3 separate regions of the Homo sapiens genome follow, and regions 1 and 2 are each linked to region 3. Evidence: fine-mapped expression QTL. A gene starts in region 3. Each other region holds a variant in brackets. All regions are shown on one strand. Distances are between the middles of the regions.

What was found.
Region 1: its variant is fine-mapped to the expression of AZIN2 in transverse colon (GTEx, PIP 0.96).
Region 2: its variant is fine-mapped to the expression of AZIN2 in whole blood (TOPMed, PIP above 0.99).

The regions. Positions count from the first base shown.
Region 1 is chr1:33,054,512-33,062,690 of GRCh38, forward strand. LOC124903969 (a long non-coding RNA gene) reads left to right here and starts at 1,993. Exons shown (of 2, transcript XR_007065697.1): 1 at 1,993-2,297; 2 at 4,051-4,395. RefSeq lists an enhancer at 617-911. The variant C/T (reference allele first, on the strand shown) is at 3,597.
Region 2 is chr1:32,986,425-32,994,603 of GRCh38, forward strand. It overlaps the pseudogene LOC100419257. Among named protein-coding and RNA genes, the nearest start is that of RNF19B, 26 kb to the left of the region's middle. RefSeq lists enhancers at 2,765-3,024, 5,789-6,305, 6,063-6,482, 6,493-6,542. The variant A/G (reference allele first, on the strand shown) is at 4,842.
Region 3 is chr1:33,076,252-33,084,430 of GRCh38, forward strand. It overlaps AZIN2 (antizyme inhibitor 2), which reads left to right and starts at 4,902. Exons shown (of 12, transcript NM_052998.4): 1 at 4,902-5,043; 2 at 5,137-5,257; 3 at 5,350-5,561; 4 at 5,927-6,103; 5 at 7,703-7,876. The coding sequence starts at 5,999. It overlaps LOC105378635 (a long non-coding RNA gene), which reads right to left and starts at 4,745. Exons shown (of 3, transcript XR_947163.2): 1 at 4,670-4,745; 2 at 3,948-4,076; 3 at 1,633-2,035. RefSeq lists a silencer at 4,864-5,123 and an enhancer at 7,845-8,179.

The DNA of each region.
Region 1 (8,179 bases), 22 kb before region 3:
GATAAAAGAGGAGCAGCCAAGGACAATAACAACAATAACTCTGGGGACAAGTTTGATTGAGAAAAATCAAAATCTTAAAGTAAACGTCAAACAAAAAAAAATTTTTTTTTTTTGAGACAGGGTCTTACCCTATTGACCAGGCTAGAGGGCAGTGGCACGATCACAGCTCACTTCAGCCTCGACCTCTCCAAGTAGCTGGGACTATACTACAGGTGGGTGCCACCACCTCTAGCTGATTTTTGTATTTTTCTTTTTCTTTTTTTTTGAGACGGAGTCTTGCTCTGTCACCAGGCTGGAGTGCAGTGGTGGGATCTCGGCTCACTGCAACCTCCGCCTCCTGGTTTCAAGCGATTCTCCTGCCTCAGCCTCCTGAGTAGCTGGATTACAGGTGCATGCCACCACACCCAGCTAATTTTTGTATTTTTAGTAGAGATGGGGTTTTGCCATGTTGGCCAGGCTGGTCTTGAACTCCTGACCTCAGGTAATCCACCCACCTCAGCCTCCCAAAGTGTTGGGATTACAGGCATAAACCACAGCACCTGGCCTAACAGTTATTTTTAAAAATAATTTCTACCAACTGTAATCTGTCATCCCCTTTCCTGACGGACATTTGGCCCCCTTGATGACATCTCCAGCTGGTTCCAAAACTTTTCAGTCGTTTTTAGTTATTAATGCAGTCTCTTGTTTCAGCCATTAACTTGGTCTTTCCATTTTCGAAGGTCAGTCTCCTTTGGGACTCACAGTCCAGCAGGCAGGCCTATGGCATGGAGGGGAGATGGGTCTGCTCTCTCTTGTCTGCCCTCTGGTGGGGAGAAACAAGAAGGAAAAAAAGGACTTGTTTCCTTAGATGTCCCCTGCTGGCCCTTGGCTGACCTCTTCTTCGCTTCTCGCGAGGTGTCTGTGTTCCTGTCCTCTCAGACATCACAGCTGCTCAGCTCCTTATCTGTAGACACGGGGTGATGGAGTAGCACGCTGCAAAAGGGCTTGGTGCCTAGTTGCTCTCCTCTGCTGGTGGCCTCTGGCTCACCCTTCACAGTGCACCTCTTTGCCCCCCGCAGGCCTGCTGCCCCATCACATCTACCCTCTGCAGCCCCAGCCTGGGGCCTGTGGACACAGGCCTGTCTCAGAAAAAATCTCAGAATCCATCTTTCTGCCACTCCTTGCCACCTGATCACATCCTTGGCCTTCCCTCTCCATGCCCTTTCCCCTATTTCGTAGCACCAGGACAGGTTGGCAAGTGTAGTTGCTCAGCAAACATCATCAGGGAAGGAGAAGTCAGATGCCCTCTGGTGGCACCGCACACCTGATGAATGATTCTTTTGGCTCTGTTCCAGTTAGCTACTGTCCTAGTTAGCTCTGTTCCAGTTAGCTTGTGTAACTAACGGATCAGCCTCAACTTCGAGGTATAACACAATCACCATTTCATCATGGTCATGGAATCTGTGGGTCAGGAGTTTCACAAGGCACAGTGGGGATGACTGGTCTCTGCTTACGGTAGGTGGCCTCCAAGATGGCTCTCAAAGTCCCCTCCCCCCTGGTATTCACCCCCTTGTGTAGTCCCCTGCCACACCATATCAGTTGGTCTGTGTGACCAATAGAACATAGCAGAAGTGATAGTATGTCGCTTTTGAAGCTAGGTTGTGGAAGATAGTGTGAGGCTGGGCGCGGTATCTTACACTTATAATCCCAGCACTTGGGGAGGCCAAGGTAGAAGGATCGCTTCTACTTGATTGAGAAAAGCCAGGAGTTTGAGACCAGTCTGGGCAACATAGGGAGACCCTGTATCTACAAAAAAATTTTTAAAAATTAGCCGGTGCAGAACGAGACTCCGTCTCAAAAAAAAAAAAAAATTAGCCGGTGCAATGACTCACACCTGTAGTCGCAGCTAGTTGGGAGGCTGAGGCAGGAGGATTGCTTGAACACAGGAGGTAGAGGCTGTAGTGATCTGTGATTGTGCCACTCTGCACTCTAGCCTGGGTGACAGTGCAAGACTCTGTCTCAGAAAAAAAAAAAAAAGAAGATATTGTGGCTTCTGCCTCTCTGTCTCTTGGATCACTCCCTTGGGGAAGCCAGGTGCCGTGTTGTGAGGCCAGCTGCCTCTATGGAGAGGCCCACCTGGAGAGGAACTGAGGCTTCCTGCCAATGGCCACATGAATGAGCTTGGAAATGGATCCTCTGGCCCCAGAGAAAGTAGATGACTGCAGCCCTGCCGACAGCTTAACTGCAATTTCATGAGAGACCTCGAATCAGAATCACCCAGATATGCTACTCTTGGATTCCTGACTATCAGAAACTGTGTGAGATGATAAATATTTATTGTTTTAAGCTGTTACATTCTGGGGGTAACTTGCCATGCAACAGTGCATAACTAATACACTGCGCCATGATGTCTGGGACCTTAGCTGGGAAGACTCAAATGGCTGGGGGCTGGAATCACCTGGAGGTTGCTTCACTCACATGACCAGTGCCTGAGCTGGGACTGTCACCTGGAGAACCTAAACGTGGCCTCCCCATGTGGCTTGGCTTCTCACAGCATAGCACCTGGGTACCAAAAATGAGTGCCTGTAAACTGAGCTTTCTAAGAGACCAAGGAAGAAGTTACAAGGTTTCTTTTGGCCTAGCCTGAGAAATGGTGCATTGTAACTTCTGCTGCATTCTCTGGGTTAGTAGCAGTCACCAAGGCCAGGAGGAGAATTTGACTGGTCCCCTTGACAAAGTAAAAAGGTCATATTGCAAAACCTGTCTTGGGGGAATTGCCTGCCCTACCCTGAGGGAGACAGGGACAGATGGCTTCGTTTCACAAGCCCTGCATAGCTCCTGCATAGAACAGCACTACATAGTGCTAGTTCTGCTGAAATAGCACTTCCTATCAACCCTTCAGGGGAGCTTCTGAGCTTGGAAGGTGGAGCATTTCTCAGCTTTTGTTCTCATTTGTGGACTCTGGCGCTAATTCTTTTTTTTTTTTTTTTTTTTTTTTTTTGAGACGGAGTCTTGCTGTGTCGCCCAGCCTGGAGTGCAGTGGTGCGATCTCGGCTCACTGCAAGCTCCGCCTCCCGGGTTCACGCCATTCTCCTGCCTCAGCCTCCCGAGTAGCTAGGACTACAGGTGCCTGCCACCAGGCCCGGCTAATTTTTTAAAAATATTTTTAGTAGAGACAGGGTTTCACCGTGTTAGCCAGGATGGTCTCGATCTCCTGACCTCGTGATCCGCCCGCCTCGGCCTCCCAAAGTGCTGGGATTACAGGCGTGAGCCACTGTGCCCGGCCTTTTTTTTTTTTTGAGATGGAGTCTTGCTCTGTCATCCAGGCTGGAGTGCAGTGGTGGTGTGATCTTGGCTCACTGCAGCCCCCACCTCCCGGGTTCTAGCGATTCTCCTGCCTCAGTCTCCCAGGTAGCTGGGATTGCAGGCATGCACCACCATGCCCAGATAATTTTTGTATTTTTAGTAGAGACAGGGCTTTGCCATGTTGGTCAGAGTGGTCTTGAACTCCTGACCTCAGGTGATCCGCCCGCCTTGGCCTCCCAAAGTGCTGGGATTACAGGTATGAGCCACCGCGCCTGGCCCTCTGGTGCTAATTCTACCTTTCTGGAAAAACA[C/T]GGAAGGTCTCACAGGCTCCTCCCACCACCAAGTCACCCCATCCTTTCTCTGCCATCCACAGCACTTAGCCCTCTACTTCCGTCAGGTAAGTAGCCCTTTACCTACCCTGCTAGCTGGAATTATGGCCCTGTTTTACAGAGGAGGAAGTAATCTGGCCAAGGCCACACAACCAGAGGGTGGTAAAGCAGGAACTCAGTGCCAGCTCTGACCCCTAAGTCTATGCTTTAGGGCTTCTGGGATTCCAGAAAGCCTGCAGGTGTTGGAGCCTCAACCCTCATATCCTCATGGCCCTGCTGAGGGTGGGGCCAGTGTGAGCAGCATGAGAGGGTGGGGCTGGAGGGGGCAGGGGCTTCAAACTCTGCCAGACGGTTGGGTCTAGTTGTCAGGTGCACCCTCTGGGTGAAAGGGGAAGAGAAACAAGTGAGAGAAAATCGATTTTTACTTTCTTTTCAGGCCCGTCCCCAGTTGGTGAGTTTTCCAGTGGCCGGAAGACCGAGCCCTAGAGTAACAGCTGTGGACTCACTGCCCACTCTGTGTTTATTGGGCTGGAACCCCCTCTCTGTCCTGGAACTTCTGGTTGGAGAGCCCTCTGAGCTCATGGGGCCTGTGAATGGTGGGTCTTGGAGTGATTTCCAGCCCCAGTGATCAGGTGTCCTGTCAGTGCCCCTCAACTCCCTGCAGTCCCCTACTTCCCATCAAGCCAACTCCCAAATTCCAGGATGTGACAGTTCCCAGGTCTACTGCCTTCCAGGCACTGAGCTCATGTTGGGGACCCAGAAATAAATGAGATACATACAACCTCTGTCCTTGAGTTGGTCACAGTCTAGTAGGTCACAGTCTAGTAGAAGTAGAAATGAAGAGTTAACTGCCAGATGTCATGTTACAGGGCACATTTAATAAGGGTGAGAACCACACAAAGGTGGGAGTGCCTAACTTAACAATCAAAAGAAATGAACCATTGATACACAACAACATAGATGAATCTCAAATCATTATGCAGAACAAAAGAAGCTGGACACAAAAGAGTACATACTCTATGATTCCAATGTTATCACATTCTAGACCAGGCAAAACTGTGGATTATATAGAGATGGAAATAAGGTCAGTAGTTACTTGGAGTGAGGGGGAATTGACTGGGAAGGGGATGAGAGAATGTTCTGACATAATGAAAATGTTCAAAACCTTGATAGGAATATGGGTTATATTAGAATATTTGATTGTTGGGCTGGGCGTGGTGGCTCACGCCTGTAATTCCAGCACTTTGGGAGGCTGAGGTGGGCGGATCACGAGGTCAAGAGTTCGAAACCAGCCTGGCCAACATGGTGAAACCCTGTCTCTACTAAGAATACAAAATTTAGCCGGATGCGGTGGTGCACTCCTGTAATCCCAGCTACTCAGGAGGCTGAGGCAGGAAAATTGCTTGAACCCGGGAAGGGGAGGTTATAGTGAACCAAGATCAAGCCACTGCACTCCAGCCTGGCGACAGAGCAAGCAAGACTTCATCTCGAAAAAAAAACATATTCCGTTGTTAAAACTGATAAAACTGTACGCCTAAGATCTGTGAATTTCATCATATGTGAATTATGTCCATGGCAGGTGGCATTCAAAAGATTCCCCAGGCAGGCATGGTGGTTCACACCTGTAATCCCAGCACTTTGGGAGGCCAAGGTGCGCGGATCACTTGAGGTCGGGAGTTTAAGACCAGCCTGGCCAACATGGTGAAACCCTATCTCTACCAAAAATACAAAAAAGTTAGCTGGGCATGATGGTGTGCGCCTGTAGTCCCAGCTACTCAGGAGGCTGAGGCAGGAGAATCGCTTGAACCTGGAAGGTTGCAGTGAGCCGAGATCACACCAGTGCACTCTAGGCTGGGTGACAAAGCGAGACTCTGTCTCAAAACAAAGAAACAAAAAACCTCAAAGAGCCCCCAAAGACTCCTGCCTACTGGTGTGCATGCCCTTGTATTATCCCCTCCCACGCTGTATCAGGTTGGTCTATTTGGCAGAAGTAATGGGGTGTCACTTCTGAGATTAGTTATAAAAGACACTGCAGGGCGGGCGTGGTGGCTCACACCTGTAATCCCAGCACTTTGGGAGTCTGAGGCGTGTGGATCACCTGAGGTCAGGAGTTCAAGACTAGCCTGGCCAACATGGCAAAACCCCATCTCTACTAAACATACAAAAAAATTAGCCAGGTATGGTGGTAGGTGCCTGTAATCCCAGCTACTCGGGAGGCTGAGGCAGGAGAATCGCTTGAACCTGGGAGGTGGAGGTTGCCATAAGCTGAGATCGCACCATTGCACTCTAACCTGGGAGACAAGAGTGAAACTCCATTTCAAAAAAAAAAAAGACACTGCAGTTCTGTCTTGGTCTCAATCTCCCTTTCCCTCAGGTCACTTATTCTGGAGAACCCATGTGTTGGGCATCCCTATGAAAAAATCCGAGGGGCAAGAAACTAAAGCCTCCTGTCAACAGCTATGTAAGTGAGCTTGCAAGTGGATTCTTCAGCTCCAGTTAAAGCCTTCAGATGTTGGCAGCCCTAGCTGTCTGCTTGACCACAAACTCATGGGAGACCCTGAGCCAGACCACATGGCTAAGCTGCCTCCTAATTCCTGACCTTCAGAAACTGGGTGACATAATCAATGTTTGTTGTTTTAAGCTACTAAGTTTTGAGTTGTTATGCAGCAATAAAAGATGAATATAATATTTCAATAAAAGAAACATGTAGGGAAAAATATTCTAAGTGCTCCTGGCCCAGATGGCTTTCCCAGGGACTTTCAAGTGCTTTCTATGACTCAGACTTCTGGGCTCAGCCTCTATGCTGGGGAGATGATGGCCTTAGGGAACTCTGTCTAGACAATAGGAACTGGTGTCTCCAAAATAGCCGCAGACACCGCCCACCAAACCAGCCCCACAGCAGCTGCACACAGGGCTCAGGCCCACACTTACTATGCAGAGAGGACTCCAGAAATGCTCCCTGACCATGTGGCCACAGCTGCAGCAGGAATCCACTCAGGGCTCAGATGCTGCCATGGTTTGAATGTTTGTCCCCTCCAAAACTCGTGTTAAGGTTAGTCCCCAGTGTGGCAGTATTGAGAGGTGGGACCTTTGACAGGTGATTGGGTCATGAGGCCTCTGCCCTAATGAATGGATTAATTCATTCATGGATTAATGGATTGATGGAGTAATGGGTTATCAGGAAATGGAACTGGTGGCTTCATAAGAAAAGGAAGAGATACCTGAGCTGGCTTGCTCAGCCCCCTCATCATGTGATGCCCTGTACCATATTGAGACTCTGCAGAGAGTCCCCACCAGCAGAAAGGTCCTCATCAGATGCAGCTCCTCCACCTTGGACTTAACAGCCTCCATAACTCTAAGAAATAAATTCCTTTCCTTTATAAATTACCCAGGTTCAGGGATTCTGTTATAAGCAACAGAAAATGGATTAAGACAGGTGCTAATAACAGCTGCTATTTTTGGAACTTTCTGTGTCCCAGGTAATAGGCAAAGTGCTTTGCATGCATCTTTTTATTTGCTCCTTCCAACAACCCTCTGGAGAAGATATTATTAAACCTATCTTACAGTGGAGAAAACTGAGACTCAGAAAGCTGAAGCAAGTTGGCAGGGTCATAGAACTACTAAGTGATGTGGCAGCTTTAGATAGAAATCCAGATTTGTCTAGTTCTCAAACCCAGAGGCAGGGAAGCAGTAACCATAGACTTGAAAACACTTTTTTCATCTATTCCCTGTGATGCTTTTCATGGGAGAATGAGCCACACATTCTGCTATCAGGGAAAAGTCCACAAATCTCAACCCAGACTCCCTAGGTCAATGTATAAAGGTATTAGACTGGCAGATGCTATCAGAGTCACCAAGAGTCTCAGAGATCATGGGAATCTCAGAGTGGGGAACTGAGACCCAAAGAGGGAAGTGGGTCCTTTCTAAGGACTCCCTGCCCAGTGTTTTTGCACCACTTTGCCCTGCCCCTTGCCATATGAGATGGAAATAGTTGCCATGTGGGAGAAACATTAGGGCAAAGAGTGGTTTTGGAGTGGGGAAAGCAGTGAAAAAGGGATATCAGGCTGGGAGCAGTGGCACACACCTGTAATCCCAGCACTTTCAGAGGCCGAGGCGGGCAGATCACAAGGTCAGGGGTTCAAGACCAGCCTGGCCAACATGGTGAAACCCCATCTCTACTAAAAAAATACAAAAATTATTAGCCAGGCGTGGTGGCACATGCCTGTAATTCCAGCTACCTGGGAGGCTGAGGCAGGAGAATAAGCGAATCCATTGGCATTTTTTTCCTGGCTAGAATTCATTCCCCCTTTTCATGTTACAACACCCCACTTTTCTACTAGAGAACCATACCTTCCCCGCTCTCATTCCATATGGTAAGAATGGGGCTGATCTCATCTTGGGCAAGGGGCTGAAGCCCCAGGTCTGGCCAATCAGAGATGTGCACATCAAGGAACCTGGCCTAGGAGGCAGTGGCTGGGGTTCAGGGTAGATTGGAGGATAAGGGTGTGTGTGGGGGGTTGCTGAGAGCCACTTGAACCCAGGAGGTGGAGGTTTAGGTGAGCCAA
Region 2 (8,179 bases), 90 kb before region 3:
GCCAAGGAATGCAGCCCAAGAAGCTCGAAAAGTTATGAAAACCAATTCTCATTGAGCATACAAAATAATTGAGCATACAAAAGAATTATTGTGCAGTACAGGTAATTTAAGAGCTTTATTTTATTTTATTTTTTGAGACGGAGTCTCGCTCTGTTGCCCAGGCTGGAGTGCAATGGCACGATCTTGGCTCACTGCAACCTCTGCTTCCCAGGTTCAAGCAATTCTCCTGCCTCAGCCTCCCGAGTAGCTGGGATTACAGGCGCCCATCACCATGCCCAGCTAATTTTTATATTTTTAATAGAGACGGGGTTTCACCGTGTTGACCAGGCTGGTCTCAAACTCCTGACTTCAGGTGATCCGCCCACCTTGGCCTCCCAAAGTGCTGGGATTACAGGCATGAGCCACTGTGCCTGGCCTAGAATCTTTGTTTCTGTTTATTAATTGAGAAAAGGAAGTAACCATTTTAGTTAAACATGAACTTCAGAGTCAGAAAGATCTTGGTTCAACTTCTTCCCTGAGAAAACACCAAAGTGCAGATGACTGGTGCAGAGAGAGGACTCAGAGGCCCTTGGGGCCCTGGAATGGGAGGTCATAGTGGTTTCCACGGAGGCTTTGGCAGTGGCATTGGGGCCTGGATAGTGGTTGGGGTCAGGGCCTGGGCCATGGAGCTTGCAGAGGCAAGGATGAAGATGAGGAATGGATGCCTGTCACCAAGTTGGGCTACCTGGTCAAGGACATGAAGATCAAGTCCCTGGAGGAAATCTAGCCCTTCTCCTTGACCATCGAGGAGTCTGAGATCATTGACTTTTTCCTGGGGGCATCTCTCAAGGATGAGGTTTTGAAGACCACGCCCGTGCAAAAGCAGACCTGCGCTGACCAGCATACCAGGTTCAAGGTGTGTGTTGCCATTGGGGACTACAGTGGCCACGTTGGTCTGGGTGTTAAGTGCTCCGAGGAGGTAGCCACGGCCATCTGAGGGGACATCACCTGGTCAGGCTCTCCATTGTCCCTGTGCAGAGAAGCCACTGGGGGAATAAGATCAGTTAGCCCCCACACCATCTCTTGCAAGGTGACAGGCTGCTGTGGCTCTGTGCTGGTGTGCCTTATCCCTGCCCCACTGAGGCAATGGCATCACCTTGGCCCCTGTGCCCAAGATGCTGCTGATGGCTAGTACAGACCAGTGCTACACCTCAGCCAGGTGTATTGCGTCATAACAGAAAGAAAAAGTACTACCCCAGCAGAGAGCCCACAACCTAAGTACCCTGGAGCTGTAAGAGCTGAGAAATCAGCTGGACACGGTGGCTCACGCCTGTAATCCCAGCACTTTGGGAGGCCGAGGTGGGTGGATCACAAGGTCAGGAGTTTGAGACCAGCCTGGCCAACATAGTGAAACCCCGTCTCTACTAAAAATACAACAAATTAGCCGGGTGTGGTGGCACGCGCCTGTAGTCCCAGTTATCCGGGAGGCTGAGGCAGGAGAATCACTTGAACCCAGGAGGTGGAGGTTGCAGTGAGCCAAGATGGCGCCACTGCACTCCAGCCTGGGCAACAGAGACTCCATCTAAAAAAAAAAAAAAAAAAAAAAAGCTGATAAATCATGGGCATAGCATAACCCAAAGCTGCACTGCCACCTGGGCAACTTCGCCAAGGCCACCTTTGGTGCCATCTCCAAGAATTATAGCTATCTGACCCTCAACCTCTGGAGAGAGACCATATTCATCAAGTTTCCCTATCAGGAGTTCACTGACCATCTCATCAAGACCCAGACCAGAGTCTCTGTGCGGAGGACCCAGGCTCCAGCTATGTATACAATATAGAGTTTTGTTTTGTTTTTGTTTTTTGAGACAGGGTTGCCCAGGCTGGAGTGCAGTGGCATGGCCACAGCTCACTGCAGCCTTAACCTCCAGGGCTCAAGCAATCCTCCTGCCTTAGCCACTCCCTAACCCAGTAGCTGGGACTACAGGCATGCACCACCACCCCCAGCTAATTTTTTGTGTGTGTTTTTTGTAGAGACAGGGTTTTGCCATGTTGCCCAGGCTGGTCTGGGACTCGGGCTCAAGTGATCCGTATGCCTCGGCCTCCCAAAGTGCTAAGATTACAGGTGTGAGCCACTGCCCCGGTCAACGGAGTTTTTACACAAGAAAAAATAAAATGAATTAAGCCTGTTAAAAAAAAAAGATCTGGATTCAAAGATCTTGGTTCTGCCACTTACTAGTTATAAATAGTAATTTTAACTCTGAGAAGCCTCAGATGATGTTTTTGTTTGGTTTTGCTTTTTTAACTTGGAAAATGGGGATAACAGAACCTCCATTATAAGGTGGCAGTGACAAATAAATAAGATCATGCATATCAAAGTGTGGTCTCCAGACCAGCTGCATTAACATCACCTGTGAAGTAGCCCCACTTCTGACATACTGAATCAGAAACCCTGGGCATGGGGCCCAGCAATCTGTGTTACAACACACCCTCCAGGAATTCTGGTGTAGTTCAAGTTTGAAAACCACTGATATATATGTAATAAGCCTAGTACCCAATTGGCTTACTATTGACAGTTCTAGTATACTCCCTCTGAGATGTTGAGTTAGGTAGGTATCTTTTCCCCCTCATGTCCTACAAACACTGTATGTCTTAATATCTGGGTTGTCTGCTAATGCAATCTATCACCCACACAGCTGCCCTTTAATATAAGGTACTCTTCCCATCTTTCCTTGCATACTTGCAGTAATAGGTAGCTCACTATTTGGCTGGGTAGGGTAAACCGCCTGGTCAAGCCTGTTCATACAGGCATGCCAACTGCATATGCACTGTAAAGACCTTCCCCTAAAGGCCTCTTCTCCAAGGTCCCTCAGCTGTGCTTAGGTCTCTCTTTAGCTTCAGGGTAGCTCTCCTGTATGTCTGAGCCTCAGATAAGCTTGATCAGCCCTGAGGAGCAGGGGAGGTTTCCTTCTCAAATCTGGGACCATGTTTCTACTTGCTTGCCTGGTGTTTTGGCAGCCACTTCACCCTGCTGACTCACTCTGGTCTGAGGTCACGCAAAACCTCCAAGCCTTTTTCTCAGGAACTACAGGAACTTGCGTCGGCTGGGTCACTCCAGTCCTTGATGTGTGCAATTCATTTCTTAAAAATAACATTACTTTCAAATTATGAAAGACGTGCTTGATATAGTAAGTTAGGAAAACACAAAGGGAAAAAAACCTCACTGGTAATGGTCATCCTAAAATTGACATCTGATTTTCAAAAAAAGGATCCTATATTCTTGTATTCAAGAAAAAAAAAAAACCCACTTAAGCAATTTCCATTTCTGGGGTAAAGAAAAGAATCAGAGAAAATGAAACTAATGTACTGCAGGAATAATTGTGAATTCCAGCATATATGAACATCTCTTGTCTCATAATTCAAATGTACATCAATGCATAACAATGTAAACTCATCCCCCCCGAGACTACCATTGCTATTCTTTTGGATATAGCCTCCAGTCCTTTGCAGTTACCATCCTGTATTTTTTAACTTAACTCTAGGTCTAAATTTAGCACTGAATTTGGAGATAGACAAACCTGGTTCAAATTCTGGCTTTTGTACTTATGAGTTATACCACTTTGGAAATTCATTTAACCTCCTGAAGCCTCAATTTCCTCATCTGTAAAAGGGGGCTGATAATATCTGCTTTCCAGGTTTGTTGTAAAGATGGAAATTGAGGGCCAGGTGAGGTGGCTCACGCCTGTAATCCCAGCACTTTGGGAGGCTGAGGTGAGCAGATCAGCTGAGGTCAGGAGTTCGAGACCAGCCTGGCCAACATGGTGAAACCCCATCTCTACTAAAAATACAAAAATTAGCTGGGAGTGGTGGCGCATGCCTGTAATCCCAGCTACTCGGGAGGCTGAGGCAGGAGAATCACTTGAACTTGGGAGGCAGAGGATGCATTGAGTGGAGGTCGTGCCACTGCACTCTAGCCTGGGTGACAGAGTGAGAGTTCATCTCAAAAAAAAAAAAAAAAAAAAGGCCAGGCGTGGTGGCTCACGTCTGTAATCCCAGCACTCTGGGAGGCCAAGGTGGGCAGATCATGAGGTCAGGAGATTGAGACCATCCTGGCTAACACAGTGAAACCCCATCTCTATTAAAAATACAAAAAAATTAGCCGGGCGTGGTGGTGGGCGCCTATAGTCCCAGCTACTCGGGAGGCTGAGGCAGGAGAACGGCGTGAACCTGGGAGGCGGAGCTTGCAATGAGCGGAGATTGTGCCACTGCATTCCAGCCTGGACAACAGAGTGAGATTCCGTCTCAAAAAAAAAAAAAAAAAAAAGAAATTAATGAGAATAAAGCTTCTGGCACACAGTAAATGCCTTCGGAGTTTGTATTGGGCTTGTTACCGTTAACTCTTCATCTGGCCAACTACTGCTCCCTTCTTCCTCCAAGGCAGATGCTGTCCCCCTTTGTATCTTTCCCCACCTTGCTGCTCTCACACATCACATTCCCTCTCTGTCTTGCTGCTGTCCCATGTCTATCTTTGTGTTATAGCATCAGACACGACACAGTGCCCCTCTACCCTATAAGCTCCTCCAGGGCAGGGCCATGTCCACTTTATTCTTTTCTGTGTCCCCAGGGTCCAGCAGAAGGCATGACCCAGTGTGGCTGTCAGGTTAGAAGGGGTTGGATAAGAATTTGTGATGGAGGCCGGGTGTTGTGACTCATGCCTGTAATCCCAGCACTTTAGGAGGCTGAAGTGGGTGGATCACCTGAGGTCAGGTATTTGAGACCAGCCTGGCCAACATAGCGAAACCCTGTCTCTACTAAAAATACAAAAAAAAAAAAAAATTAATTAGCTGGGCATGGTGGTGCGTGTC[A/G]GTAATCCCAGCTACTCGGGAGGCTGAGGCAGGAGAATTGCTTGAACCCAGGAGGTGGAGGCTGCAGTGAGCCGAGATCATGCCACTGCACTCCAGCCTGGGCAACAGAGTGAGACTGCATCTCAAAAAACAAACAAACAAAAATAACATGTTGATGGAATGAATAAACTTAGAAGAGATTGAATGCATGAATGGACGAATGCATGAATGAGTCAGTAATAGCAGGTATCCACCAGCGGAATCCTCTTTCCCCTAGGGATAGAATCCTCCACCTCCCAGACTCCATCTCAAAAAACAAACAAAAAGAATGTGTTGATGGAATGAACAAACTTAGAAGAGACTGAATGCATGAATGAGTCAGTAGTAGCAGGTGTCATCCACCAGCAGAATCCTCTTTCTCCTAGGGAGAGAATCCTCCACCTCCCAAGGTGGGCCCTGCCACGTATGGGAGCAGGGCTCCTGCCTGGCACAGGCTGGGATGAGAGGCTCTGCCCCTCATAGCGAGAGTGTCGCTAGGGGCAGAGCCATCACGGGTCAGGGGTAAAGGGAGGGGGACACGGTGGGGCTGGAGTGGTGGGAGATTTGTAGCCCAGGTAGGGGGGTGCCCTTGCCTAACTTGGTGGGGCTAGAACCCGAGTACTGATGCAACCAAGCTGGTTTCCTACTGCAGCTGCACTCTGGCTCCCACAGTTTCTGTCACCCCATCACTGATGACTGAGGCGTGACCTACAGGAGGGCCTGGCCTACATAGCAGAGAAACAGAGGCCTTAGGGATAAGGGGCGGCAGCCTGGCTGGCTGGCCAATGAATCCAGGTCCAAGCTTAGCGGGTACTTCCTGCCGCCGGGTCCAGCGCCAGCCAGTTCACCTGCTGTGCAACCCTAGCTAAGACATGTCTCCTCCCCCCTGCCTCAGTTTCACCATCCTGGGGGACTCTTCCTGCTTTGGCATCATTAGAAGTCCTACCTCTCTCCCAGGCAATCTTCAAAAAATTTTCTGATAGCAGAACAAAAACCAAAACCTGATACTCGATACCTCTTTTGAGTCCACTAAGCAGCCCCTTAAGAGAAGCAGAGAGCTCAGAGTCAGGCTGAAAAGCTGTGTTACCCTAAGTTACTTCCCTCTCTTCAGTTTCCTTTCCTGTAAAATGGCCATTGATAATGACTATTTCCATCCCCACAGGATAGCTGTGAGGATTAAGTGAGCTGTTGGGTGTAAACTGCTTTGCAGGGGTTAGGAGCATTACTCTTACTCAGAGAGGCAGTAGCTTCAGGCCCAACCTTTCCTGAGGCCAGCCCCTGACACGCCCTCAGCTTGTGGCAGCAACAGAGATGGGAGGGCCTCCTGGGACATTCCTGAGCCTGGTGTGGCCACAGCTGAAGAAGCAAGTCTGCATATACTCTGTGGTGAGAGCCTGGCTGGTCTCAGGGCTTGCAGGGAAGGGAGTTTTTAGAGAAGGAAATGGTTGTGGTGAGACAGAATGATGGAGCAACTTCTTGGGGATCTGGGTGGAAAGCCCCCACTCCTGGTATGTTCTCATGGTGGGATGTGGAGCAGATAATGCAGCCCTGCACCAACCTCATTCACCATCAGAAAGTACCTGGTGTTCACCGACTGCTGGGCTAGAGCAGAAACAGGTTTTAACATGAAACCTCAGACCACTTGCCATTTCTGGGCCTCAGAACCTCCCTCCCCCCAAGCAATTACTAGGGTCATCTGGAGGCTGGTCCTGCCAGCCAAGCCTCTATTCCGCCACTCCAAGGGATGGGCCAGGAAAATAGCCTTTGGAGTTAGCTCCTGATTTGCTGGTGACATGGGATGTCCTTTCCCCTCTTTGGACCTCGGTACTGGGTGAGAGTGAAGTTGTATCTGGTTTGGCCGTGGCATGACCTTGAACCCAAGATACTGTGGCCATGCCAAGTATTTTGTAAAGTTTGGACTGTTGGACAGTGGAAAGGCCAAGTGCTGTGGAGGAATGAAGAAAACGCCCAGGACAGTTGAGGGCTTCGTCACTTTTCACTGAGCAGCTTGAAGGAGACCCAACCTTCTGTGTTTCCACTTCCTCATCAGCGGAATGGGGACATTTCTTTTTTTGTGGTTGTTATTTGTTTGAGACAAGGTCTCGCTCTGTCATCCAGGCTGGAGTACAGTGGCATGATCATGGCTCACTACAGCCTCCATCTCCTGGGCTCAAGCGAGCCTCCAACCTGTGCCTCCTGAGTAGCTGGGACCACACGCATGCGCCACCACGTCCAGCTAATTTTTGTTTTTGTAGAGATGGAGTTTCGCCCTATTGCCCAGACTGGTCTTGAACTCCTGGACTCAAGCGATCTGCCCACCTCAACCTCCCAAAGTGCTGGGATTACAGGCATGAGCCACTGTGCCTGGCTGGGACATTCCTCTTTAGGCCTCTCCTTCCTTCTCTGTAAAACAGGAGGCAGGTGAGCTTCCAGGGTCCTGGGCCCTGTGATTCTGCTTCTCAGCTGTGACCTTGGGCAAGTCAGTTCATCTTCACCTCTCCGCATCTTGGTTTCTCCATCTGTCCAATGGGTATTTTCCCCCTCCCCATTCTCAGAGTTGCTGAGCTCAAATGGGGTGATGAGCACTAAGGTGTTTTGAACAGGAAAAGTGAAAAGGGCTTCTGCAGGGCAGCTCCTTTGAAGCCCCAATCTCCTTGCCCTCACCTGTCCTCCCAAGAAGGTGTAAAGCCTTTTGTGGAGTTCCACCTAAAACAGAGGCCTCCGGTTAGCTCCTTCCTCAGACCCTGCTGGGTTATCTGACAGGCCCATAGCCTAACCTGGCTGGTGACTGGCTGCTTCTCTCTAGCTGGCACAGCCCTGGTGTCCAGGCTACGAGAGAAGAGGCCTGGGTCTCTGCCCAGTGGCTTCTGCAGCAAAGGGTTTTCTAGTCAGATAGAACAGGGTTTGAGCCCCAGCTCTGCCACATTTTAGCTGTGAGCTGTGATGGTTAGTTTTAGCCATTTTACAATTTGATGGTGTCAGTCCGACTGCACCATGGGATACCCAGATAACTTTGGACTTGGACTGGAACTAAACCACTCTCCTGGGTCTCCAGCTTGCCGACTCACTCTGCAGATCTTGGGACTTGCTGGCCTAGCGTGATATATATAGATCCTATTGGCTCTGTTTCCCTGACTGGTACAGAGGCCTTGGGCAATTTGCTGCTTCTTCTGAGTCTGTTTTGAAATCTGTAAAAAATGGAAATAATAATTCCTAGCACAAGGACCACTTTCCTGCTTTAGAATTCCCATTATTGGCTGGGTGCCGTGGCTCACGCCTGTAATCCCAGCCCTTTGGGAGGCCAAGGTGGGCGGATCACA
Region 3 (8,179 bases):
CCTTAGACAAAGGATTTAATCCCAATTTTCTCACCTGTAAAATGGGGCTAATAATGCCTGTCTTACAGGGTTATCTAAAGATTAAATGCAATCATGTGTTTGTAAACATTCAGTATGATGTCTGCCACACAACAGGTGCTCAAATAATGTTTGTTTACTTCTCTGTCTACTTCTCCCTATGGAATAAATTCCATAATCATTCTGAACTGGTGTCTTAGTCCATTTTGTGCTGCTGCAACAGAATACCTGAGTCTGTGTAAGTTATAATGAACAGAAAATTGGCTCATGGCTCTGGAGGCTGGGAAGTCCAAGACTGAGGAGCTGCATCTAGTGGAGGCCTTCTTGCTGCATAATTTCATGGTGGAAGGTGGTGGAGAGGGCAAGAGAGAGCAAGAGGTTGAACTCACAGCCTTGAGCCCTTTTATAATGGGCATTAATCCATTTATGGTGGTGGAGCCCTCATGACTTAAACACTTCCCATTAGGCCCCACCTCCCAACACTGTTGCATTGGGTATTAAATTACAACCCAAGCTTTTTGAGAGACACATTCAAACCATAGCAACTGATATACTGATCTTTATTTTTTATTTTTTTAGAGATGGAGTCTTGCTCTATTGCCCAGACTGGAGTGCAGTGGTGCAATCTTGGCTCACTGCAACATCTGCCTCCTGGGTTCAATTGATTCTCCCACCTCAGCTGCCCCAGTACCTGGGATTACAGGTGCTCACCACCATGCCCGGCTAATTTTTTGTATTTTTAGTAGAGATGGGGTTTCACTATGTTGGCCAGGCTGGTCTTGAACTCCTGACCTCAAGTGATTCACCTGCCTCAGCCTCCCAAAGTGCTGGGATTACAGGCATGAGCTGCCACACCCGGTGGTATACTGATCTTTAAAAGGGAGAAATAATCTTCCCTACTAGTTACCACAAAATATCTTCTCTCCTTGTCTTCATTAGTATTTTGATTTTATTGGGGGGTAGGAGGAACAGCAATGTACCCAAATAAAGACTACGTCTTCCCACCTCCCTCGCAACTAGGTGTCATCGTGGATCTATATTTTGGTCAATTATGAAAAAAGAAGTGTTTGGTGGTGTTATGGGTTGAATTGTGTCCTTGTAAAATGTTATTTTTAAGTCCTAACCTCCAGTGCCACAGAATGTGACCTTATTTGGAAACAGGACTTTGCAGAGGTAATCAAATTTAAATGGGGTCATTAGGATGGACCCTAATCCCATATGATAAGCATCCTTATTAAAAGGGGAAATTTGGACCCAGAGACAAACACATATAGAGGGAAGATCATATGAAGACACACAGGGAGAAGACGGCCATGTGACTGGAGTGATGCATTACGAGCCAAGGAACGCCAAGGATTGCCAGCTAACACCATAGGCTAGAAGAAGCAAGGAAAGATTCTCTCCTAGAGCCATCAGAGAGAACATGGCCCTGCCAACTCCTTGACTCCAGACTCCTAGCCTCCATAACTGGAGACAATACATTTCTGTTATTTTAAGCCACTCATTTTTGGTACTTTGTTATGGCATCCCTAAGAAATTAATACTGGTGGAATTTTGGGAAGCCTGAATAAAATGATGAACAGGAAAGTATTTTTCAAACTCTCCAGTTCTATGTACTAATAAGGCATTTTTATTATTGCAACGTTTGTGACTATGATTACTCTTGGTTTATGAAGAATAGATTGACTTGGCTGACATGATTCTGACTAGAGATCAGAAGATTTTTATCCTGCTTCTGCTCCATGTTCTTGAGGGCTCAGCACAGCAATCATAGATGCTACAACAGCAGTAGCATGAGAGACAAGCAGAAGAGAAGCTACCAGCTTTTGGGTTGGATGCTGGCAGGATGAGTGTGTAACTTTTGTTTAGCTGGGGCCAGAATTCTCAGCCACTGATTGGCAGTCAAGCATAAAGGTTAAAGGTCAGAATTGGCTTGTATTTAAATCTAGTCTTCACCTTTACTTGCTGTGTGATCCTGGGCAAGTTATTGAACTTTTCTGAGCTTTATATTCCTCATCTGTAAAATGAGAACAAATGTGGCTCCTGTGACATAGGGTTGTCATGGAGTTTCAATGACATCACATAACAAGCAGGGAAAAAAGAAAAAGCCACAGCCTATCTGTACTCAGTCCAGGGTGCAGATTTTTCTGCTCTGATTACTTACTCTTGATAGATTCCAAATGGACAGACTGGATTCTGGCTCGTTTCTTCTTACCTCTATTGATTCATTCAGTAAACATATTGAATGTACCTATTATGTGCCTACTAGGTGATGAAAAAAGCTGGTAGGGCAGACCCAGACCATGACATCCAAATGCAGACAGCTCAGAGAATGATTTAACTAAAAGTAGAGCCAAAGTTATTCGGGTGCTCCTCTCCTCTCAGTCTAATTTTTTTTTTTTTTTTGAGACAGAGTCTTGCTCTGTCACCCAGGCTGGAGTGCGGTGGCGTGATCTCGGCTCACCGCAAGCTCCGCCTCCCGGGTTCACGCCATTCTCCTGCCCCAGCCTCCCGAGTAGCTGGGACTACAGGCTCCCGCCACCGCACCTGGCTAATTTTTTTTTGTATTTTTAGTAGAGATGGGGTTTCACCATGTTAGCCAGGATGGTCTCGATCTCCTGACCTCGTGATCCTCCCATCTCAGCTAGGATTACAGGCGTGAGCCACCGCGCCTGGCCCTCTCAGTATAATCTTTTAGGGTTTCTGCCATGGCCGTCCTAATCTACCCTTCCTGATTGGTAGATACTTGTTCTCATACTATGTTGCAAATGACTATTAATCTCAAAGAAAGGTCCTGCAAATGACTGTCCTATAAAGCTGCCTCCTGAAATACTACTCCTATGCATAGAAAACAAGATGGTTCCAGGCAGAAGGGCCCAGAGAAATCAGTCTGAAACCTCTCAGTTCACAGGGGGAAATCAAGCCAGGCAGAAGTGACCCAGATCCAGTTAGGGTGACTCAGCCAAGGACACCCAGCAATTATATGTCCCAGCTGGGTAGGGAGCAGAAAATGGCTCTCCTGCTTCTGGTCCCTGCCCCACACCATTTGTGTACTGAGCATGTTCTAACTAGGTTGTGCAGTGTCCTAGGGAGATACTAAGGCGGGACAAGAAGTGCCTCTGATTTAAAAAAAAGTCTACAGCCCACTGGGCATGGTGGCTCACGCCTGTAATCCCAGCACTTTGGGAGGCTGAGGCAGGCAGATTGCTAGAGCTCAGGAGTTTGAGACTAGCCTGGGCAACAGGGCGAAACCCTGTCTCTACAAAAAATACAAAAATCAGCAAGGTATGGTAGCATGCACTTGTAGTCCCAGCTACTTGGGAGGCCGAGGTTGGAGGATCACTTGAGCCTGGGAGGTGGAGGTTGCAGTGAGCTGAGGTCATGTCACTGCACTCCAGCCTGGGTGACAGAGCCAGATCTTGTCTCAAAAGAGAAAAAAAAAAAAAAAAGCCCACAGCCTAGCAGGGGACATGAAGACATATGGTAGACCAAAAGCCCTTTGGCTTCATTGATTTGAAATGCTGCCTCCATTGTGTACCAATCTCCAATGTATATGGGACTGTTGTAGACCCTGTTCTGTTTTACCACTGTCTCTTCCTGCTCCAGCACCATACTGTTTTAAAGACTGTAGTTTTGGCCGGGCGCGGTGGCTCACGCCTATAATCCCAGCACTTTGGGAGGCCGGGGCGGGTAGATTACTGGAGGTCAGGAGTTCAAGACCACCCTGGCCAATATGGTGAAACCCCATCTCTACTGAAAATACAAAATTAGCTGTGCGTGGTGGCATGCGCCTATAATCCCAGTTACTTGGGAGGCTGAGGCAGGAGAATCGCTTGAACCCAGGAGGCAGAGGTTGCAGTGAGCTGAGATCGTGCCATTGCACTCCAGCCTGGGCAAAAAGAGTGTCTTGACTGTTCTTGTACACTTACTTTTCCAGATGAACTTTTATATCAGCTTTTGAGTAACACAGCTATTGAATCTTCCTCAGCATTCTTGTCTATGCCAGGCACCAGGCTCTTGAGCAGGGTATTCAGTCCTTGCCCTTGGGAAATCACAAACTAGATGCAAAGTGTAACCAAACAAGAAGTGTAAAATAACAACAGGAATCTCACGCTATGGGTAACAAGAACCAAATGAGTGAGGGGTCCAGACAGACTAAATGCTGTGTTCCTTGGGGCCAGGCAAGTCATGGAAGGTTCAACAGAGGTGACATTATACAGGACTTTGATGGGTGAGCAGCAGCTTTCGGTATAGAAGAAATGCTTTGAGTTGAGGAAGTCCGGGAAAGCTTCTTGGAGAAGGAGACACATTTCTATTGAGAGATGAGTAAGAGTTTGCCGGGTTCACAGGATGGGATAAAGGGAGGGATTGCCCTGAACTGGGAAAGTCACAAAAAGGTTCTCTGAAGACATTTTAGATGCGTTTTGAGTTGGAGTCGGGGAAGATGCCTGGAAGAGGCAATTAAATAAAAAGAATTTTATTACAAAAGTAATACAAGGACATGTCATTGGAACCGGGTTTCGAGAGATGAGTGAGCAGTTCCTGACGCAGACAAGAGCTGGACCACGAAGTAAGTTGAGGCAGAGGCAGAAAAGGCTTCCTGGTCCTGCCCACTCTCTAAGACCTAAGATGCAGGGTCTAAGTGTCTCACCTGCGTGGCGGCGGCCCTGTAGTTCTGACTTCCAGCGTGAGGTAGCCACCGCCAGGCCTCCGGGGGAGAAGACTACAGTAAGGGCGAGCAGAGCTGAATGCTTTATGTCGGAATCGACCAATGGGATGGCGGCACCCGGTTGCCAGGGCTACGGCCAAGCGGAGGTAGGGCCTCGGCACTATGGGCGGGGCCTGGGCGGGGTTATATAAGCCAGCGGCGGGCGGAAGGCGGGGCGTGGGGGTCTGTGGCTGCTGGGCTGGCGGGGCGCAGGCCGCGGGACCCGAGCCCGGGGAAGCGAGAGAGCGGAGGCGCCGAGGATCCGATTCACTCCCTGGGGAGACCTATGGGCCGAAGCCGTGTAAATGCGTTTTAAGGCGAGTGCGGAAAGTGGCCTGGGGAGCCTCGGGGAGCGGACGCCCTCCGCCCTGGTGCTGACCTGCCTCCCTGCCCCTTCTGCCTCCTGTCAGCAGAGGCCTCGGCTCCGCAACTGCCACTCCTCCTCGGGGTGTTGCACAAGTTTCGAGGTCACCGGCGACCCCCCCTAGCAGCGCGCCTGGCTCTGGCCCCCGCGAAGGAGGACGGAGTTTGGTAAGGGGCCCTGGGGGTTGGGGGGACCTCAGCCCTGCACTCTGTAGGAGTCACTCGGACAGAAAAAACCTCGGCCTTCCGTTCTCTCCCAGGAGCTTGCGGCCCCCACCCACCGCGTGGCGTCCCCAGGCACGCCTAGAATTCTAGCACCTCAGGATCAGTCCAGCCCCCATTTACAATTGGGGAAACTGCGGCTCCGAAAGGGTCAGAGGGTACCCGAGGTCAAGCAGTAGAGAGCGGACTCGAACTTAAGCTCTTGCTCTTAGGCTGAGACGCCTTGATGTGGCCACCGGCTACCCTCTAGGTGGGCGTGGTCAAGACTGGGGGCGCCCTGGAAACTTCCCCACCCAAGTTTCTCAGATTTTCTGTTCCATCTCTCTCTCACTCTTTCCTGAAATCCAGAATTTCAGAACTGGGAAGGCTCTCCAAAACAATTCATCCATTTTACAGAGGGAGCAACTGACTCGGAGAGGCAGTGACATTTGGGCATACGGTGCCTTGTCTCCGTCTGAAATCCGGGATTCTTGACTTTCTCCACCCTTGCCCAGTGAACCCCGGGCTTGTGCTGGGGGCGGGTTGTGACGGGATTGGGATCCCTGGCCTCGGGAGGCGAGTGGGGCAGCAGAGCCGGCCCCCCAGCGGTTCCCTTCATCTCCCCTCGCCCCGCAGTGTGTTGCATACTTTCTAAGGCGGCGGCTGCAGCAGCGGCTCCATCCAGCCCGTCAGCTCCTCCTGCAAGGCATGGCTGGCTACCTGAGTGAATCGGACTTTGTGATGGTGGAGGAGGGCTTCAGTACCCGAGACCTGCTGAAGGAACTCACTCTGGGGGCCTCACAGGCCACCACGGTGAGGGGCTGGGAATGGGGGTGGGTCCCCGGTCCCCTGTACAGATCAGCTGCCTCCTCAGGAAGGGTCCCTAGGGCCCTCATCTTATCCTTTCGCTTATTTGGTACGCAATCCTTGCTATTTGCAAGAGAGGGGCTCAATTTATCCCCAATTCTTTGTCCTTGCCCCCAAACCTGCCCCTCCTATGTTGCCTTTTTACCCAGCCCTCCAAGGTCAGAAACGGGGGATTCCTTTCCTGCTGCCCCCTCTCCCTCACCGCCCACATCTAGGCATTACCAAGCTCTGTGAATTCTGCCTCCTTAAATAAGCCTCCAGTGTGCTTATGTGGAACCTCGCTTTCTAGTTCAGTCTTCCTCTCTCCAAAGGCCCCCTGATCTCCCGGTCTCATGCCACCCCCTCCAAAGGTATCATAGTCCTGTTCAAAATCTGAATTTGGCAATTCTCCACTGCCTACAGGATCAAGTCAGAGCTTCCCTGCCTCCATAGCCCCATTCCCAGCTTTCCCCACAGTATATATTATGCTCCTTCGGAGCTGAATGACTCAATTTGCATTTCCCAATGATGCTGTGTGCCCAATGATGCTATTACCATGCCTTTGCCCAGGCTGTTCCTTCTGCCTGCAGCATCCTTCTCTCAGCCTCTCCCCTCTTTACCCCTTTCTAGTCATTCCTTGCTTCTCATCAGTGTTGCCTTTCCTGATCGCCCCAGGCAGATTTTCTATTTTCTTTCTCCATGCCCCTGCATTGCACCTTGTAGAAACTGCCATCTAACATCTGCTGAATGGACTTGTAAGTACTTAAGGGGTTCCTTTTCTTCCAGACCCAAGCTCCTTCAGAACAACAGTACTGTTTGGTCATCTCTGTCCCTTAGCATAACGTTTGGCACCAAGTGGGCATGAGTAAAAAAGTGTTGCATGAAAGGGAAACTGAGTCCCAGGGAAGCAACTCTGGAAGGGTCCCTTCCACATTTAAGTAATGTGGTCTCACCCACAGCCTCATACATGTTTGGCCTTTAGCACATCTACAATGAACAGTTGTCCATAGGGATAGGTTGCAGTGTCAGTGGGACTAGCTTAAGGCTTCATTGAGCACCTGTGTTTGGAAGGCAGTGAGCTGTAGGTCATAGCTTCTGCCTTTAGGGAGTTTACCCTTTTCTAGAATGGACAGATGCATATGCAGTTCTGATACCTTGGAAGCATATGCAAATGCAGTGGGAGCATTTAAAAGCAGAGTTGCCTTATTGGTTTGGGGAAGGTGGCATTTGAGTGAAACTTTAAGGATTTTGCCAGACACAGGAGTGGGGAGGGTATTCTGCAGGACATGGTGGGAACAAAGGTTTGAAGGTGGGAAAATGATCCAGCCTACAGCTGGAGTTTTAGCCGCATTGAGGGGAGGGATTGGGGCTAGATCAGAGCCTTGAATGCCAGGCTGAGGAGTTTGCCTTCTGCCCTGTAGGCTTGGGGAGGCCCAGAAAACTTAGCAGCAGGGTAGCTCTGTGGCCAGTACTGAACCTGGGTCAGGTACTTGGAAGGATCACGGATGGCATGCACAGGGTGCGAGCTGGATGGGGTCTCACATTCATCCACTTCTTGTCATTCAGGACGAGGTAGCTGCCTTCTTCGTGGCTGACCTGGGTGCCATAGTGAGGAAGCACTTTTGCTTTCTGAAGTGCCTGCCACGAGTCCGGCCCTTTTATGCTGTCAAGTGCAACAGCAGCCCAGGTGTGCTGAAGGTTCTGGCCCAGCTGGGGCTGGGCTTTAGCTGTGCCAACAAGGTGAGCCCTGCCCGCACGGTGCACTGACCCTCCATGCCCACTGAACACACACATGGCCAGGCTAGTCCAGGTGGGCTCTGGGGAGCAAGAGGTACCTGTAGTTGGTCCTTGCCCTCTGGGAAGACCACCCACTCAGGAGGGGTCTCAAGGGATGAGGGAGGGAGAAACGAGCATGGAATTTGTCAGCCTTGAAGTTCCAGATTGGAATCTTCTTTGTCCCTGGTAGAAAGCTCATCTTTTTAATGGAGATTTGCAAATTTGTTTGGCACAGAGCTATACATGATGTTCTTCTAATTAAAACAA